Regions from separate parts of the Homo sapiens genome. Here region 1 is linked to region 2. The links come from fine-mapping of genetic effects on gene expression. A gene starts in region 2. The other region holds a variant in brackets. All regions are shown on one strand. Distances are between the middles of the regions.

Region 1 (8,987 bases), 180 kb before region 2:
TGCTTAGTTTCAAGGTCGTGTGATTTTATCAGTTCTCTGCTTTTGGGGAAAAATAAGCCCATAAAAGTCTTTGCTAGCCCTAGTGCCAGTTCAGGCTCAGAAAACCTGAGTGTAAGACTGAGCCCTAAATAGTATTGCCTACTGGTTGTTAAAGCAAGGGTACACTGACAAGTGTGGTGCATTCATTCATTCATTCATTCACTTATTCAAACAAAGTTAAACTGAGAGCTTATGATGTCTCAGAACTGTGCTAGGCACTGGGAACACACAGAGGAAAGCAATGACATCCTATCTCATGAAATAAATAGATAAGACTAAAATTATGTAGAGTCAAAATTATCCTTAAATGTTCCTCAAATCACCCATAAAGTATGATCTTTGGTTAGGTTCCCTAAACGCAGAACCTGAGATAAGGATGTAAGTAATTGAAAGGATGCAAGTAATTCTCATGCAAGTAATTGAAAAAGTACACTCAGGTGAAACCTGCATGGTAATGGAGGAAGCAGGGCAGGGCAGGGGATCAGATTCAGCAAATGTGTGAGTTCAGTCAGCGGAACAGCTGTAGTCTAGCCTCAGCCAGATCCCACAAGGAGACCTGGGGCAAGCAAAGCACCATGGATTTGTACCCCCAAGAGGCTAAGGGGCAGCCTTTTTTATCCTAACAATCAGGCATGGGATATGGGCCTATCCAGGATATGGGCCTCTTTGGCATTCCTGGAGGAGGTGGCTCCAATCAGATGAGGGCAATTCTCAAAAGAAGGGTGTGCTGTGAGCAGTTAGCAGCCAACAGTCACAGCAGCTGGGAGGGATGCTCTGGCAGAGTAAAGGGGATCTAGAGAGGGGTGTCGCCATCAGCTACACAAGGACACAGGATTTATGTGACATATTAGAAACATACATATCGTTTGCTAATAAATACAACAGAACAATGGATTTTTCTCCATCAGTGCAATAGTTCACCATTTATTTGGATGCACTACAGAGGAAGTAGTTTGTGTTCAGGGGCCATGTTGTTTGAAAAATGTGCATCTCTCAACACCCAGCACAAGGAGGTGCTCATGCCTGGAGGGGTGTTCCCACAGGATCTGAGGCAGACTATGTTCCCAGGAGGCAGACCAAGATGTCATTATACAGGATGTTAGGAAGTGCCCTTGAGGCCAACGCCTGTGGAAAGGGATGATGGAAGCAGGAGTGGGTTAAGGGAGAAGTCCAGCCACAATGCAAGCTGACAACAGCTTCAGCGACCCCTGCTCCATGCAGCTAAATGGCTTGTGGGAGCTGACCTGTTTAGGGCCCAAATGGTCAGACCTTTATGCCCTTCCATTTACCTGCACATTGGCCCATCTTGGGAAGGGCACAAACTTGAGTGAGGTGGCTCTCTGCAGCTGATGCTGTCCCCAGCTGGAGGCTACTTGCTGACTGTTCTCCCTGCAGCGAGGCAGCAGGTCATTTCTGGAATGGGGCTGGGCAGCAAATAACTGTGTCCATCCACTAGTGGAGGTGACTCACAAGCCCACTCGTGTTCACCCCCAGCACACAATCACAAGAATAGGCACAACACTGCCCCTCACCAATGCTGTTTTCTCTTTTAGGGGATGGAGAGTCAGGGACTGGACACATATACTTAAAGAACCTACAATTTAATTAATGCTTTAATGTTTAATATTAATTCAGAACTTTTGTCATTGGTTTATCCTTAGTTAGAAGTAGATAGTCTATCCTACTTTTTAAGCTTATTTTTTTCCCATTTTCATTTAGTGACAGTCATTGTACTAAGTACCTTACATGCATTACCTTATTTAATCCATATAAAAACCTTATGAGAGAGATAATATTATTATTCCCCATTTTACAGATAAGGGTTAGAGAGTTGGAAAAACTTGCCCATAGTGAAATCATATAGCCAGTATTTGAACCAAAGTCTCTCTGACTCCAAAGCTCAAACACTTAACCACTCTACTAAAGCCAACTATGAAAACTTTCACATTACCCTTTGATGGACCATAGCTCATTCACTCAACAGTGTTTTAATAAACATGCCCTATTCCAGGCTCTGTGCTGTGTTGGTATTAAAGATTCAACAAAGAAACCTCTGATAGGAAGCATATGTGCATGCGTTCTTGTGGGTCATTCTTCCTGACTGTGTGTGTGCGTGTATGTGTGTGTGTGTATTTGTGATAATCTCAAGAGATTAATGCAAATTGTGAGGACCTTCGTATATTTCTGTGAAAGGAAAATAAAAATCTCAGGACCCCAAACTCACTATGGAAAGGGAAAGTTAAGCTTAGGAGCTAAGCCACCCAAAACTGCCTTCCATTTTGTTCCTAAACAGATAACTGCAAAGATAGAAGGCCACATACCTTCCAGGGGGACTCCCTCACAATTTCTTACAAAGAAATTCCTTGTGGGCCCTAAGATCTTTACCCTAAAACAGAGTTCTGTTGGATTTCACCCCATGTAAATTAACAGCTTATCTTCACAGGTATGGGACAAAGACAGGACTAGGAGTCATCCCTCTGCTCACTTGAGACAAATGCATATTTTACTCATTAACTATTCTATGTTTCTTTTATCTTATGTAAAAAATGCAAGTTCATTGAGCATGAGACAAATGCATATTTGACTGTTCCTCTATCCCCTCCTTTCACACATAAAATGTGGATTCAGTGAATGCTCATCAAAGCCTCAAAAGAATGTAACTGTTTGCCCCTATTCTCTACCCTCCCTTTTCCTTTCCTCTTTCCCTTACTGCCCACTCTTTCCCCCTTAAATAGTGAAGTCCTCAAACCCTCTTTGGGAATTTTTGCACAGATCACAAATGTTCCTGTGATTTATGTTCCTTTTTCCCAGGCACATTCTCAACTATGGCACAATAAACCTCTAAATTGATTGAGACTTGCCTCGGTCATTTTCTTTGGTTTACATTTCCTAGTAACTCAATTCACTGTTTTCAACTTAACAGGCTAAAAGAGATGCTAAGAGAATGCCTGCAAAAGAAGTCACCATTAATGTAACAGATAGCATCCAACAGATGGACAGAAGTCGAAGAATCACAAAGAACTGTGTCAACTAGCAGAGAGTCCAAGCAGAAGGGCAGATGGACTTCTTCAGTGTCCTTCACGGCACTGGATCCCATCAAAGAACCTTGAAGAAGTGGCTGCCCCTTGCTGGACCTGAATTCTACTGAGTCCCTGGCAAGACTGTCTTACCTGGCAGCAAACTGCTGCCTGATTTGTTGGGACCTTCTGAGCCTTCTACTTATCATGTAAATGTATTGGCACAGTGCTTACATATGTTAATAAACTGCAAATGTGCAGTTCAGTTTGTCTCTTTGCAACTCCTGTAATACGGTCTGGTGTAAAAGTAGTGAGTTAAAGCTACAGGTCAGTTTATGAAACAGAAAAGTAGGAATGCATTTTCTGGGTGAAAGAGTCACACCTTAGTGCTATAACTCTCCTGCCCATGATAGTGTATTCTGTTTCAGGCAAGCTTATTCTTTCCTTCTTTCATTTTAAATATTGTCATTACAAATCTTACCAGGTTCACTTAAAAGCTGGCTTTCATCCAACTCTAAACCCACATATTGAAAAAATCAAGGTACAGGAAAACTCCTTGTTATCCTTGTTTCCTTAGCTTGGTATGAGACAGATCGGATCCAGTTTCCCATGCACCAACCCACTGCCCATGGCATGTCTTTGGGAGGTGTCTGTGAAGCAGTCATACCTGCTCCTCATCTGCCTGGAAAGTCCTCCTATTCCAGTGTCCATGTTGGCCTCCAGTCCTTAATGTCACCATGCTTGTGGCCAATGCATCCAAATAAGGATACCCCTCAGGGCTCAGCTAGACATTGCAATTTTGCATAGCTTTCCAGTTCCCTTTGCTTGTCTTCTTGACTGTCTTCCCTCTCTATCGGGGTCACTTGCAATTGTTAATCAAAGATTGAACACTGCGTAGGAGAGGGAGATGATCCAGAGACATGTGGCAGCAGGCATGGCTTCCCCTTGGCCTCTCTGTACACTGCCCCAGGACTGTCATTTTGGCATCTGCAAAGGAATCACTTTAGAAAGCCAGCACCTGGTTGATGTGTATTCATACTGACATTAGATTGATGTGCACTGCATTAGAAATGAGGTAGCTGACACAGAAAAAGGATGTTTTGATAGGAATAATTTTCTAGTATGTCTTGAAACATGTTCATCTGGAAGTATTTTCCTCCAAAGTAATGTAGCATGATTTTTCAAGGATTGTTAACATGCCTGGGATTGGGAAAGATAGGACTAAAGTTGTGCCAAACTATATCAATAAATTCCATGTTTAGCAGAAATAGGCAGCCTATTGGTGTTATGTTTATGTAACATAGTCCAGAGAACTGACATGCAGGTCAAAAGTCAGATACGCAACCTCCTTATCTGCTAACTCTGTTATTCTTCAAACACAAGTGGGTAGTGTCATTTTTCCTTCCTTCCTTCCATTGGCAGATTGTATATTTATTCACAAAACATTAAATGTCCATCCTGTGCCAGGTACTATGCAGATGTTGAGGGATTTGGGGTCTGGTTAGTCGTGACTATCTATCCTGAATCTAACAGTGACTTCATAACTAGGAGACTGAATTAGACCCTTAAGGTATAGTGTGTGTTGCAAATCACTCTGCAATGGAAACTTTTATATTCAGGGTAGGTTTGTGTCTTAAACTAGGTGTTCTAATCAATGTACAAGACTTTACCATACACGCAACTATAGTTTTTCTAAACCTTCATCATTTTGTGATTCTTTGAGAAAGGGCTTTTAGGAACTTTATGTTCTAAAAAATGTTTTTAACAATAATAAGATAAAAGAAAAACCTGTGATTCATATGTCCCCACTGGCATTACTCAGCAGGAGCCCCCAGCTGCCAAAGGTTGGCAGTGATCCTGCAAGTTCAAGGGCTCTTTCTCCCTGGGGATGTGCTTTGTGGCTTCTCTTTACAGCTTTGTTTCTGCATCAGTTCACTGCTGCATGTTGTTTGGAATTTATCACCTTAAGAAAGTGTCTCTGTTTTATATAGAAACACTTTCTCACTTACAGGGGAGAAGGAAATGCAGGGCACATGATCTGGCCCTCCCCAGAACAATCTGGATTTCACGGAGACAGCAACCAGAAGTTAAACCATGTGACTAAAAATGCATCTGGCTACTTTTTCATGTATGTATGAGACAGAAACTAATCCTTACTATCCTATTAGGATACCACTTTTCATTGCAAAGTTTGTGTCAATAAAGTCATTAATTTTAAACATATATGGGCAGTTACAGAGAATCTTTACTGAAACCTTAAATTTGTATGCAGAACTATTTAGACTAGTTTTTAAAAATGAAGACCTTTTACATAAGTGAACCCTGTGAATCCTCCAAAAAGCCTTGTGAAGTAGGTAAG[A/G]AGAATGCTATTAGCACCAATTTACACTTATGGAAATATTTATAGTCCAGTCAACTAGTAACTTTTGGTGCAGAAATTCAAGTGGGGGAAGCCTGTCTGCAAATTTAGTTCTTTTCCTGCCACCACATGGTGCCACCATGGCAAGAAGGTCTGGTGTAACTGAGAGATGAGGCCATTTAGAGGGGAATTGTCATGGAGCCTCAGGCTGGGCTGAGTCCAAGTCTAAAAGGATAATTTGGGTGATTGGAGGGGGCTAGAGAGAGAGGATTGAAGAGGGCTGGTAGTGAAGACAGTGATTGGAAAGGGCCAGTGAGTTCTCAGGGAATTTGGTTCTGGTTCAGGCTCACTTATCCCTCCAGAGAGAGTGACCTTGACCTGGTGTGAGAGGTCAGAACACTGAGAGGGACTTTATAATTCAGAGAAAATAGAAATTGCACCCCTTGGGATATCTGCTTAGACCTAAAGGTAAGGGAAGCCAGGGACCTCCCACGTTGCTGCCAATGTCCTGAGCACAGCTTGGATGTACAGGTAAGAGACAGTAGCCCCTCACCCTTTATTCATGGCCCACTTTCACAGTGCTTTCCACAACCCACCCCCACCTCCCAGGGTACCTGAACACACCCCCGTTTGCACTGCCTGTCTGAGTCCTGCTAACCTGCATCTGTTTTTGATCCTCACCAGCCAGACTTGCGGGCTGCCCCATGTGACACTGAAGTGCATCCCATTCACATTTACTGCTCTAAGCACGGTTCACAACACTGGAAGCTCCTCTGCTGAAATCAGGTGACAGAGCTGCTGTGTTTAGCCGTCATGGTGTCAAAACTTACTTAGGAATTTCACATAAATAGCCAGCTCTGGCATAGACTCCTACTTTAGAACTCCAGTATCCATCCTTCTCTTCTTTCTTAGTTGAGCACATGTCCACTTAGAACAAACATTACACTTTCCAGCCTCCCTTGCAGCTAGAAGTTGCAGCATGATTAAGTTCTAGATAATGAAATGAAATAAAAGTGAGGCATAGAAGCTTCCAGGAAGTCAGGCTCTTTCTTTCCCCTTTTGCTTCCTGGTGTGCAGAATGAGGAGGTAATGGCTGGAGTTACCTCAGTCCATTGGGCCATAAAGCAACTTCGAGAATGAAAGCCATGCCAAGATGAGCAACAAGTTAGAAGAAGCATGGGTCCCTAATTCCATAGAGTTTCATGAGTCTTGGACTATATACCACAAACCTCTTTTTGTGGGAAAGAAATATACTTTACTTCATTTAAGTTGCTGTTTCAAATGATTACTCACAGCCAAAACTGATTCTTTTTCTTTTCAAGTCTGAGAAATTGAACAAAACTAATTCTAATTTGTATGCATATACTTCCATCTTTCAAAAAATTGGAAGATCGCTCACCCTTGGGGCCTTGGCTGCTTGGCCACATCTGGCTGGAGCTGATGAGTCTGCATTAGCTGGAGCTGGGAGGGTCTCCAGATTGTGATGGTCGCTACCACTCATTGTGGCTTACACATGGTAACCTCCCCATTTCTGTTACCTGCCAGAACCCAGAGACATTTGAGCTTGTAACTCCTGCTCCACTGTATGTTCCCAAACATGTTGTTTTTACACTCTTTTCAGGAGTCATTGAGATATACAAGGTCCTTTTCTCCTGTTTCACCAGTCTGGGAAGTGGCCAATCTCAGGAGAATTTTCTGAGCAAATTATGAATATTACCTAATATTTAAAATCATGCATTCACTTGCTCATTTATTTAATCCAAATGTATTTACTGAGACTCTTCAATGTGCCAGAAGTTGGGATGTGGTGAGAGATACAACATATCTGGTCCCTACCCTCACGGAGATGGCAAAATAGTAGAGGAAACAGAAAATAACGACATAAAGAAATAAGTCATTACAGTAACTTAAGATGGGGATAAATGCTGAAAAGAATGTTAATAGGAGAATGAGCTGGACGGAAGCAGGAAGGGAGCAGGAGACCATTTAGGAGGCTACAGCTATAGTCCTGGGAAGAGATGTCAGTGCAAGGAATAGGGTAATGGTTGCAAAGACGGATGAAAATAGGTGGATGCTGAGAACATTTTGGAAATGGAAACATTGGGACTTGCTGATGGACTGGGTGTAGAAAGTGAAGTCAAGGGAGAAATCAGGGTGATTCCTAAGTTTTTTGGTTTGAGCAACAGGGTTTTTGGCAAGATAGGGGAAAACAGGGTGGGAAAAGTTTTTTTTGGGGAGGCAGTGAAAATCAAAAAGAACCATTTTGGACCCATTAAGTATGAAATAACCAAGGGGAGGTGTCCAGTAGGGAATTGGATGTACGAGTCTAAAGTTCAAGGAATTGGTCAAGGGTAGAGCTGTGCATTTGGGGGTCATCAACACATGGAAGATATTTAATGGCACAGGAGTTAGTTCACCTGATGAGAAGCTACTGAGGAAAGTCTAGGGCTGTGCCGGGAGACACCCCAACATTCAGGGAGTTGGTGGTGGAGGAAGAGTCAGCAGAGGGTACTGAGAAGTGCTGAGGCAGTTAGGAAGAAAACAGGGAGCTCACTTACTGAAGCCAACACTAAAAAAAAATGTTTCATGAAGGGAGAAATGGTCAGTCACGGTGAATGCTGCCAAAAGGTTAAATCACGTGAGAACAGAGATGTGACTCCAACTAGCACCATGAAGGTGACTGGTGATCTTAACAAGAACAATTCCAGCAGAGAGGTGGTCATAGAGCCAGACTACAGAGGATGATGACGGGAGGGGTGGTGAGGAAGTGGAGGGAATGAAAAAAACTGTCTTTTGAGAAATGTTGCTATGAAACAAAGCAAAAAGAGGCCAGCAATTGGAGAAAGAGACGGGTCAAGAAGAAGTTGTAAAACGTGGGACATACTAGAGTATGTTTCTCAACAATTGCAAGGATTCCTTAGGGTGAGGTTGAAGCTGGAAGGGTAGGGGCATTATCCACGGAGTAAAAAAGTCCTTGAGGAAGTGAGAAGAGAACAGATCCAGGGCGCAGGTAACCACATTGAAATTTAAAACCTCTGTATGATAAACATTCACATAAAGATGAATAATAGTCTATTAGAAGATATCTACAGCCCATGTATCAAAGAGTTAGTATAGTGATATACATTAAGAAAAATGAGAATTTCATAAGCAAAAGACAAATGACCAAGAGAAAATAACATGAACAGGCAGGAGGAAAGTTGAATGGCCAAGAAAAATACAAAAAATCCTCAGTGTCATCAGTAATTAGGCAAATTTGGGTTAAAAAAAGAGATGCCACTTTTTAACCTATCTGATTAGCAAAGTTTTTAAAATGTGATAATATCAGTGTTGGGAAGGGTGTGGGAAAGAAGTAATGTCAGACACTGCTGGTTGAAATAGAATTAGTGATACTATGTTGGATGGTGTAGGGCAGACAAAGCTTTACCTCTACCTTCATAGGAACCCCAGCAGGGCCTGAGAATTAGATTGACACAAAACAGACTAGCAGGAGAGGAACATACAGATTTACTTAATTTTAAGTTTTATGTGAGTTGAGAGACTTTATAAAGAAACGACGGCCCAAAGAAGTTGCA
Region 2 (8,987 bases):
CTGCATAGTTTATAAACTTTCTGATGCTTCCCCTGGATTCTGTGTGTCTCATTCTTCTGTATAGATCCCTTTTTCTAAGAACTTTCCATTTTCCTCTCAATAATAAACTCACAATACCATTTCTCTCTTGAGGTAAAAAGCAAAACCAACCATAAAAACACTACCTGTTCTTTTCATAGGTATAAACCAATGCTGAACTATAATCTCCCTAACATAAAATTAAAATTGTTATATCGATAAAATACAGTAAATTTTTTTGGTCTAAATCAGGGGTCCCCAACTCCGGGTACCAATCCATGGCCTGTTAGGAATTGGGTCACACAGCAGCAGGTGACCTAGGTGGGCGGAGTACGAGCGAAGCTTCATCTGTACTTACAGCTGCTCCCCATTGCTTGCATTACTGCCTGAACTCTGCCTCCTGTCCGATCAGTGGTGGCATTGGGTTCTTACAGAATCTCGAACCCTATTGTGAACTGCACATGCAAGGGATCTAGGCTGCACACTCCTTATGAGAATTTATTGCCTGATGATCTGAGGTGAAACAGTTTCATCCTGAAATCATCCATACCTCCTCCACCCCCGTTCATGGAAAAATTGTCTTCCATGAAATCAGTCCCTGGTGCCAAAAAGGTTAGGGACCACTGGCTTAAATGACCTCATGATCATTTTAAAAACATTTGCCACTAATGAATTAGTATGTAGATCTAAGTACCTATCAAATAACTTACAATGGCCTATCACAGCACTAAAAAAATGCCAATGGACACAAGCTGAAGATAAAAAGTTTGGTGTACAGAAAGGAGCCAAGACAGGACACTAATTTTAAATTCATTTTCAAAGAAAGACAATATAATGACTTTAAAAAAATTATCATCTAGCACTATCACCCTTACACAACCTGTTTCATTTGCTGGATGTTAGTTTTACCCCTCCTTTCCTCTGTGACAAGTTTGTCTCTCTTAATAAAATTAATCTCCCCCCTACCTGTGCTCTATATTGGTGTTTTTAAAATTGCAGATGAATCAAGAAACCAATTGAACAGATTGCCAGTATCTTTTCTTTAAAACCAGACTGGAATTGAAAACAAATATAAATGACATTACAAGTAGTTAAGGATAAGTAATGTTTCATGAAACTTGTGTTTCAGTAATGTTTGTGTGTGGATAGCAAAGGTAAAATTTATTTCCTACTAAGCGTTCTGGTCAAAAATGCTTGTTCTAGATCCTGCTTCTTCAGATAACCCACCTTAGTTAGATACGTTACTCTTTATCCTCCTGCCTCCATTTCCCAATTTCTTCCTTGATTTCAGTTCTTTCCCATTAGTATTTAAATAGACTTAAGTCTCTCCTAAGTATTTCCTCTTTGATCTCAGTGCCCCCTTATCAGGTAAGTGTCTGCAATGAGAAAACCAGCCCCTCCCTGGCCCCCGAGACAATCTCAGCAGGGACTCTCTCACCCCTGCTGCAATCTGGTTTGAGCTTTACCAATTACTGCAAGCGCTCTAATTAAGAACCTTCAAAGGCACTTTGGAGTTCTCTCTTTCTTAGGAACCCCTTAATACACCTGATATTGTGTAAATCCCTCTCTTCTGGCTCATTTAACACCACATTTTCTTGAATGTCCTCTTGCTTCTTTGCCAATAAATTTCCTTGGCCCCCTTTTCTCTGCCCATCCTTAAATGCTGATTTATAGGCACAATTTCCACCAAATAGGGGTGGTGTCTCAACCATTAAGTGGCTTCAACTGCCATCCCTGTGCTTCTAGTCCTGGTCTCTTATTCCTAACATCCTGCCCTACTAAGGGTTGTGGTTCTACTGCCAGTTTCCATTTTCACATGGCATAAAAGATAATGTCAATCTGGCAGCTTAACTTTCTGGAATCATTCTTTATTTCCATCTCTAGCATTTTAATTTACCCTTTAGCTATACCAAACTACCCACTCATGGTTTCAAACTAACAGCATATGTTACGGAAACAGACTTTCTGAGCTTGAATCCCAGTTCTAGCAATTACTTTGCAACCCTGAGTAAGTCACTTGATTGCTCTGTGCCTGAGTTTTTCTGTAAGATAGGAAAAAATAATAGAACCTAACTCTAAAAATTATAAAGGATTAAATCAGTTAGTACATATAAAGCTCTTAGAATTATGCCTGACATATTGCAAGCACTCTGTAAGTACTAGTTTATTTATGCTACTGGGTCTTGCGATACCACATACTTACACAACTTTACTCGGCACTACTGTTACTGAATTTTACGTTTTGGTTCCTTAATATTTTGGATGTAGTCATAGTCTCTACATTCTTCACAAAAGCTCACACACAACTTTAACTTGCAGATTAGGCTTTTGGGTATTTGAGAAAATTACTATTTTTACATCTCATTCTTTGTTGGGGCTCTCTCATCATTCTTGAGGGTTTAAAATTACAGAGTAAAGTTAGAAGGGGCCTGAATAATCATCCAATCCAATCTTTCCACCTAATACAAGAATATCTTCTAACTTCTGTCATCCAACTACTATCTGAACCACTTCTGATCATCATCAATTTCATTTCTGAGCACTGCCACATTGCCAAACCAAAATCTGCTTCCTTGTAATTTCCACTCAACCTGTGTCTGACCTTAGGATCAACCCACAATAAGGCAGCCCCCTTTCCCACATGTAAGTTCTCTAAATATCTTGAGGTTTTTTTCTCTCCCGAGCTAAACTAGTTCCTCCAGTCATTTTTCATATGAAGTAATTTCTAATCTTTCTACCACTCTGGACACCTCTGAGTTCCAATTTATACTTGAACTCACAGAAAAATTCCAGGTTTGGTTTAATAGCACATGCATTCAGAATTAACCCCCACACCCTGTCATCATTAGATTTTAACTTTATTAAATGAGTTTAATTACATGGAAGCATAAAAATTATAGTATGTTACTCAGCACTGATGTTGATAATCAATAAATTTTTATTTCGTTATTCATCTTCTTAAGTTTTCCTCCTATCACCATTTCACAGCTACACTGTGAGCTTTATTATTACAAAGTCCTGCTTCCACTCCTGGATCTTTAATTTAGGCCTCCAATCCAAACTCAATCCTTTTATCTGTCACCTCAGCCCCACTAGTCTCCTAATACTCTTCCCAATTCATCAAGACTATTAATCTTCTCAGGTACCAAGAATTCCCTTTCCTCAGGAATGATATGCTTCAAAGCACTGTCTAAACTCATCAGGCCAACCACACTATTCTTCAATGATCACCTCGACTATCACCTCTTCTGCTCCTAGATAAAATGCTACTGAAGACAGACAGCAAGTCATACAGGCCTGCACCTGCAGGCAAGTCTAAAATTCTTCCAATGTTCAAACCATTGTATAACAGGTACTTATAGAGGTAATACGGTGAGGGGTTAAGTGCCAGAGGGTTCCAGAGTTAGATTACCTGGGTTTAAATCCCAGATCCATCTTTACAAACTTGTGACTTGGGCAAGTTAGTCAACTTCTGTTATCCTCATCTGTATAGCAGATATCATAAACTCACAGGATTGTTCCTGTGAATAGATTTACAGGATAATAAATGAGATAATGCATCTAAAGCATAGTTCACTGCCTTGCTCCTAGTAAATACTCGATAAAGATTACTTGTCAATAACATAATTATTTGTGCATGCATCATAAAACTTCATGACATTATATGTCTTTGTGGTGTTTTTTCTAGAGATAATACTCCATAATTTTCGATGATTTTCCTTCATAGAACGGGTTCTTGCTTCCTCTCCAGCTGTCAAAATATTAGCCCTTCTATGGGAAACCCCAAGCCCCAATCTTCCACTGAACCTTAAAGATACACATGGCCATCAGTAATGTAGAATTTTCTTAACGGTTTACCTGTATTTATATTTTGTTTTTGTATTTCTTGATTTTATGTTGTCTAGAATTACCTTTTATATGACTAAGTCTAACGCCTACAATTAAATTCTAAGTTCCCTGAAGGCAAGAACTTTATTAGATACTTCTGTAGCCCATACAGCAGTCTACAAATATTAAGAGAATATAAATCAAGTGAACTGAATTGCCTAATGCTAAAATAAACAACTTCTGTAGATTTAATTCTCAAGGCTGAACTTAACTTGTAATAACTTTATTTGGAAACTATTTTCTGCAATTTCAGTTATCAAAGATCATCTTTGAAACTCTTTCCAGACTTTAGTGTTGAGTTTAACTTCTAAAATGCTTTGTTAATTTCAACATACTCAATTCATCTAATACACTTAAAATAGTATTTCGATTCTAGCTATTTTTTCACAGAAACTTGTACCATTCTACAAATGCCAAAAAACAAACATTCAAGAGAATTCTATTCTAAATCTACTCCCAACCATTCGCTGAAGATTACGCCCTATCCCAATACTAGTCGAGCTGCCAAACCACGTGGGTATGCTAAGATTTCAAAGTTCCTCCAAGAGTGAATGATTTGCACGTGTGAGGACTAAACCTTAAAATGTGACAATCCCTTCTTTATTTTACAAATCAGGCTTTGAATCCCATCTTCTCTGCCAATGAGGATGTTTTTTCTCAGACTTCTCTACATACATGCCCCCTCTCTTAGTCTTGAGGAGCGGGGAAGATCGCAGGCCGACCCCTCCACCAAGCACCATTTCCTCAAATCTAGTTCAGGTTAGCCAACGCGGACAGCAACGCTCCCTTCAACGCTCCTCCTCCCCCTAGAACGGAAAAGACGGAGGAGATCCAGTTCGGGCTGACAGTGAGAGGATGCAGCCCGGTGTCTGGGCGGGCTCTTACCGGCGAAGCGGATCTTCACGAGGTCGAGCGGATGCAGCGCAAGGTTGGATAAGACGCCGCCGCTCACGCCCGCTATCAGGTTCTCATACCGGACGTGGCGGAATACCGTGCTCCACGCCGACGACCCGGACGCCGACTGGCCCTGGCCCGTCATAGGCTCGGGGCCCGTCGACACCACGGCGCCCAGGGCCGCGGAGGTGGGACGCGATGCAGTGGCCGCCACCGTGGCGACGGTCGCCCCTTGTGAGCGCAACCCCACCTCCGGGACCAACGAGAGGACTCTTATGCCCAAGGCGCGTGAGCGAAGCCGGAGACTCTAGTACTGAGGGGGCAAGAACGGGGCACAGACACTACGTCACGCCGGCGGAAAGCGCGATGGAGGGGAGGTCCCAGCCTCTCCCGAGTCTCCGCCCTGCCTCGCCCACAAATGCTCCAGCCCACGGACGCGGAAGCGACTGCACAGCTAAAGAACCGCCCCTTGCTAACGTTTGCCGGCAAAACTACGGAGCGGCGCAGGATCCAGTTGAGCCAGCAGGCCGCCGCTCCGCGAGTCACGTGACTGGAAGTAGTCTGGGAAAAGCGGAAGTCGCCTGTGGGAGGAGGTGGCGGTGGGCGGAACTCCTAGCGGACACCTCGTGGAGTCCGGCCGGAAGAGCAACCGAGATGAAGGTGAAGATGCTGAGCCGGAATCCGGACAATTATGTCCGCGAAACCAAGTTGGACTTACAGAGAGGTAAGATAAGTTGGTAGGGAGAAAGGGACGGTTTCCGCAAGTCGTTGGGTCTAGCCTCGGCTTTCGCGGAGTAAAGCCGGGGGAGGCTGGCACTCTGGTCTGGTTCTTTCTCAGTTACCTTTCGCTAAGGCAAACTTTGTGCTTACGGAGTCGCTGCGGAACTGGATGGATAGCAAGTAAAGTCTGTTCAAGTCCTTTTTCTAAGAATTTCCTCTAGTGGTGAGTGGGAAACAGTTGTCTATAGTGGAGAAAAATTCCAGCTGCTGCTCTGGGATTGTCTTCAGGTTCCTATTACTGAAAAGTGGACTTGAATGAGCCAAACTCGTGGGTTGAAGGGCTGAGAGTTAAACAGGCTTTTAAAACCTTCCTACTGCTCTTCTTGCCGCTTTACTACTTCACATTAGTTGTGGATGTTGGAAGAGACAAAGATGAATTTAAAAGCATCAGTTTTCTCTTACCATCCCTTAAGAAGTTTGATGAAAGAATGGTTAAATGAAATTAATTTATCCTTCCTGGTCTGTTCCCCCGTTAACATGCTAACCACTTATAAATTGTACTTTGTGATACCTAAATGACAAGGGACCAACCATGCGTAAGCAGATTGTTCTAAATAAAGAGAATAACAGGAGCAAAGGTCTTCAGGCAGGAATGAACCTAAGGCATAGAAAGAAGGGCTGTGTCATTAGTTTGAATGAGGAGTAAGCGAGATGAGATGAGGCGAAAACAGTATTTCACTATTTTGGTTGAGTAGGAGATATTATCAACATGTGTGTGAGCATTGCTAATAAGTCTCTGCTCAAAAGATGTTTACAGTTTGTCACAAGGCAGTAATGTTTCTAAAATATAAATTAGATTTGTCACTTGGATTTGGCATCGTTCCCAGTCCTTGAATCTCTGGTCCCACCTTCCTTGCCACTTTAGTCAGTCACTACGTTTCCCACAAGTGGTTTAGTATTCACCCTTGCAAATCTCAGTGCGTTTCAGTCATCTTTTTTAAGGCCTCCTGTGGCACACACCCTTACCCAGTTTAGCCGCTTTCTCTGGAAGACTTTCACCGAACAGTAATCTGTTCCTGCTTACCTCCTGCATGAGCCCCGCCCCCTTCAGCACCCGTCTTCTGTGATTCTATCACTTCTTCACAGTGTTTATCACATTGTCTCATGATTATTATTTTGGTTAATAGTCTTTCCCATCAGACTTAGCCTCCAAAAAGGGGAAGAATCATGTTCGTGTATGCACTGTTAAGACAGCACCTAGCACATAGTTGCTTTAATAAATGTCAGTTTCTCCATCTATAAAGATTCATTTTTGCCTACATGAAGAGATTTAGAAACAAAATGATCTATCTTGTTGGGGTTTTTAAACTTCTGTTGAAATTATTAAAATGCTAATTTTAGTTGTAGGAACAGCTGCTGACATCAGAGTAGATAGAAATTTTCTAGACTTCAAAAATAATCTTTGCAAAACTGATGGATGAGACTGAAAATTAAATATATTAAATAAACGTGGCCAATTATGGACATTATCATTTTGGGTATGCTTTCTTTGTGAAGTACAGGCATTCTGCACTTTGCACAGTACCATATTAACTGAACCAGTCCCACTCTTTAAGAGGTTTACAGTGATTGAAATCACATCTGTTAACCACGAAACTTTGCAAAGTGGGGAATTGATTCCAGTATGCAACCCGTCCCGTTAATACAGTACAGTGCGAAAGTGAGTACTGCTTGAATTTTTTTTATAATAGTAGCCATTAAAACCAAACATTGAATTAAGCTGAAATTAGAACCTTTAAATCTATCACAGTGTTGAATCAAGATTTTTCTTAAAAAAAAAGATCTTTGGCTGGGCGTGGTGGCTTATGCCTGTAATCCCAGCACTTTGGGAGGCCGAGACGGGCGGATCACGAGGTCAGGAGATTGAGACCATCCTGGCTAACACAGTGAAATCCCGTCTCTACTAAAAATACAAAAAAATTAGCCCAGCGTGGTGCTGGGTGCCTGTAGTCACAGCTACTCAGGAGGCTGAGGCGGGAGAATGGTGTGAACCCAGGAGGCAGAGCTTGCAGTGAGCCGAGATTGCGTCACTGCACTCCAGCCTGGGTGACAGAGGGAGACTCCGTCTCAAAAAAAAAAAAAAAAAAAGAACATCTTTAATTACATGCTCTCATTAACATACACATATGTTGAGAAGGGATCTGCTCAAAAACTCTGTTATTAATGGGGCACACAGAAAGTTTGAAGACTACTATATAGGGAGCCTTTGGAAGTTTTAAGCATGGGAGTGACATGTAAAAAGCTGTTTTAAGATGACATCTGATAGGCTGGGCGCAGTGGCTCACGCCTGTAATCCCAGCACTTTGGGAGGCCGAGGCGGGAAGATCACGAGGTCAGGAGATCGAGACTATCCTGGCTAACATGGTGAAACCCCATCTCTACTAAAAATACAAAAAAATAAATAAATTAGCCGGGCATGGTGGCGGGTGCCTGTAGTCCCAGCTACTCGGGAGGCTGAGGCAGGAGAATGGTGTGAACCCGGGAGGTGGAGCTTGCAGTGAGCCGAGATTGCGCCACTGCACTCCAGCCTGGGCAACAGAGCAAGACTCCGTCTCAAAAAAAAAAGAAAAAAAAAGACATCTGATAATAGTGTAAATTGCCGCCAAATCAAGTAGGGATGATATTAAAGTAGCCCAAGTATAAGATAATGAAGACCCAAACTGCCTGGGAATGCAGTGGCTCACATTCATAAACCCAACACTTTGGGCGGCAAAGGTGGGAGGATCTCTTGAGCCCAGGAGTTCGAGAGTAGCCTGGGCATCATAAGGAGACCCCCGTCTCTACAAAAAATTTAAAGATTAATGGGGCATGGTGGTGCATGCCTCAGGTCCAAGCTACTTGGGAGGCTGAGGTGAGAGGCTAAGGTGGGAGGATCACTTAAGCCCTGGAGGTTGAGGCTGCAGTAGGCTATAGTCATATCACTGCATTCCAGCTTGGGTGACAGAATGATACCGCATCTCAAAACAAAAACAAAAACAAAACACAAAAAACTAGAAATAGAGAGTTGAAAGATGAGTAAGTGTTGCAAAGAGATGATGAGTAGGACTTTGAGTTTTGGTAGTAGGGAATATGGAAGATGGAATACATAAGAATGACCTAGGCTAGAGCTTTGTTGAATGTTAGATATAACACCATTACCAGGGAGTCAGAAAGAAACAGCAGGATGAAGTCATGGGGTAAGAAGATGCATTTACTTTTTACTCACTGAGTTTTTTTAGACATACGAGCTTAAAATTACTTTCTAAGCATAATTATATATATATATATATATATATATATATATATATATATATATTTTTTTTTTTTTTTTTTTTTTTTTTTTTTTTTTTGAGATGAAGTCACACTCTGTCAGCCAGGCTGGAGTGCAGTGGCGCGATCTCGGCTCACTGCAACCTCCACCTCCCAGG

Evidence for each region. PIP is the estimated chance that this variant, and not a neighbour inherited with it, causes the effect. A credible set is the group of variants that fine-mapping cannot tell apart.
Region 1: its variant is the best candidate, but not a certain one, in a credible set for the expression of SLC25A32 in whole blood (TOPMed, PIP 0.69).

What each region holds. Positions count from the first base shown.
Region 1 is chr8:103,225,027-103,234,013 of GRCh38, forward strand. It overlaps BAALC (BAALC binder of MAP3K1 and KLF4), which reads left to right. Exons shown (of 3, transcript NM_024812.3): 3 at 2,963-5,279. The coding sequence ends at 3,073. Among named protein-coding and RNA genes, the nearest start is that of BAALC-AS1, 57 kb to the left of the region's middle. The variant A/G (reference allele first, on the strand shown) is at 5,416.
Region 2 is chr8:103,409,993-103,418,979 of GRCh38, forward strand. It overlaps SLC25A32 (solute carrier family 25 member 32), which reads right to left and starts at 5,115. Exons shown (of 7, transcript NM_030780.5): 1 at 4,792-5,115. The coding sequence starts at 4,945. It overlaps DCAF13 (DDB1 and CUL4 associated factor 13), which reads left to right and starts at 5,394. Exons shown (of 11, transcript NM_015420.7): 1 at 5,394-5,524. The coding sequence starts at 5,455. RefSeq lists enhancers at 4,781-5,402, 5,136-5,475, 8,616-8,987.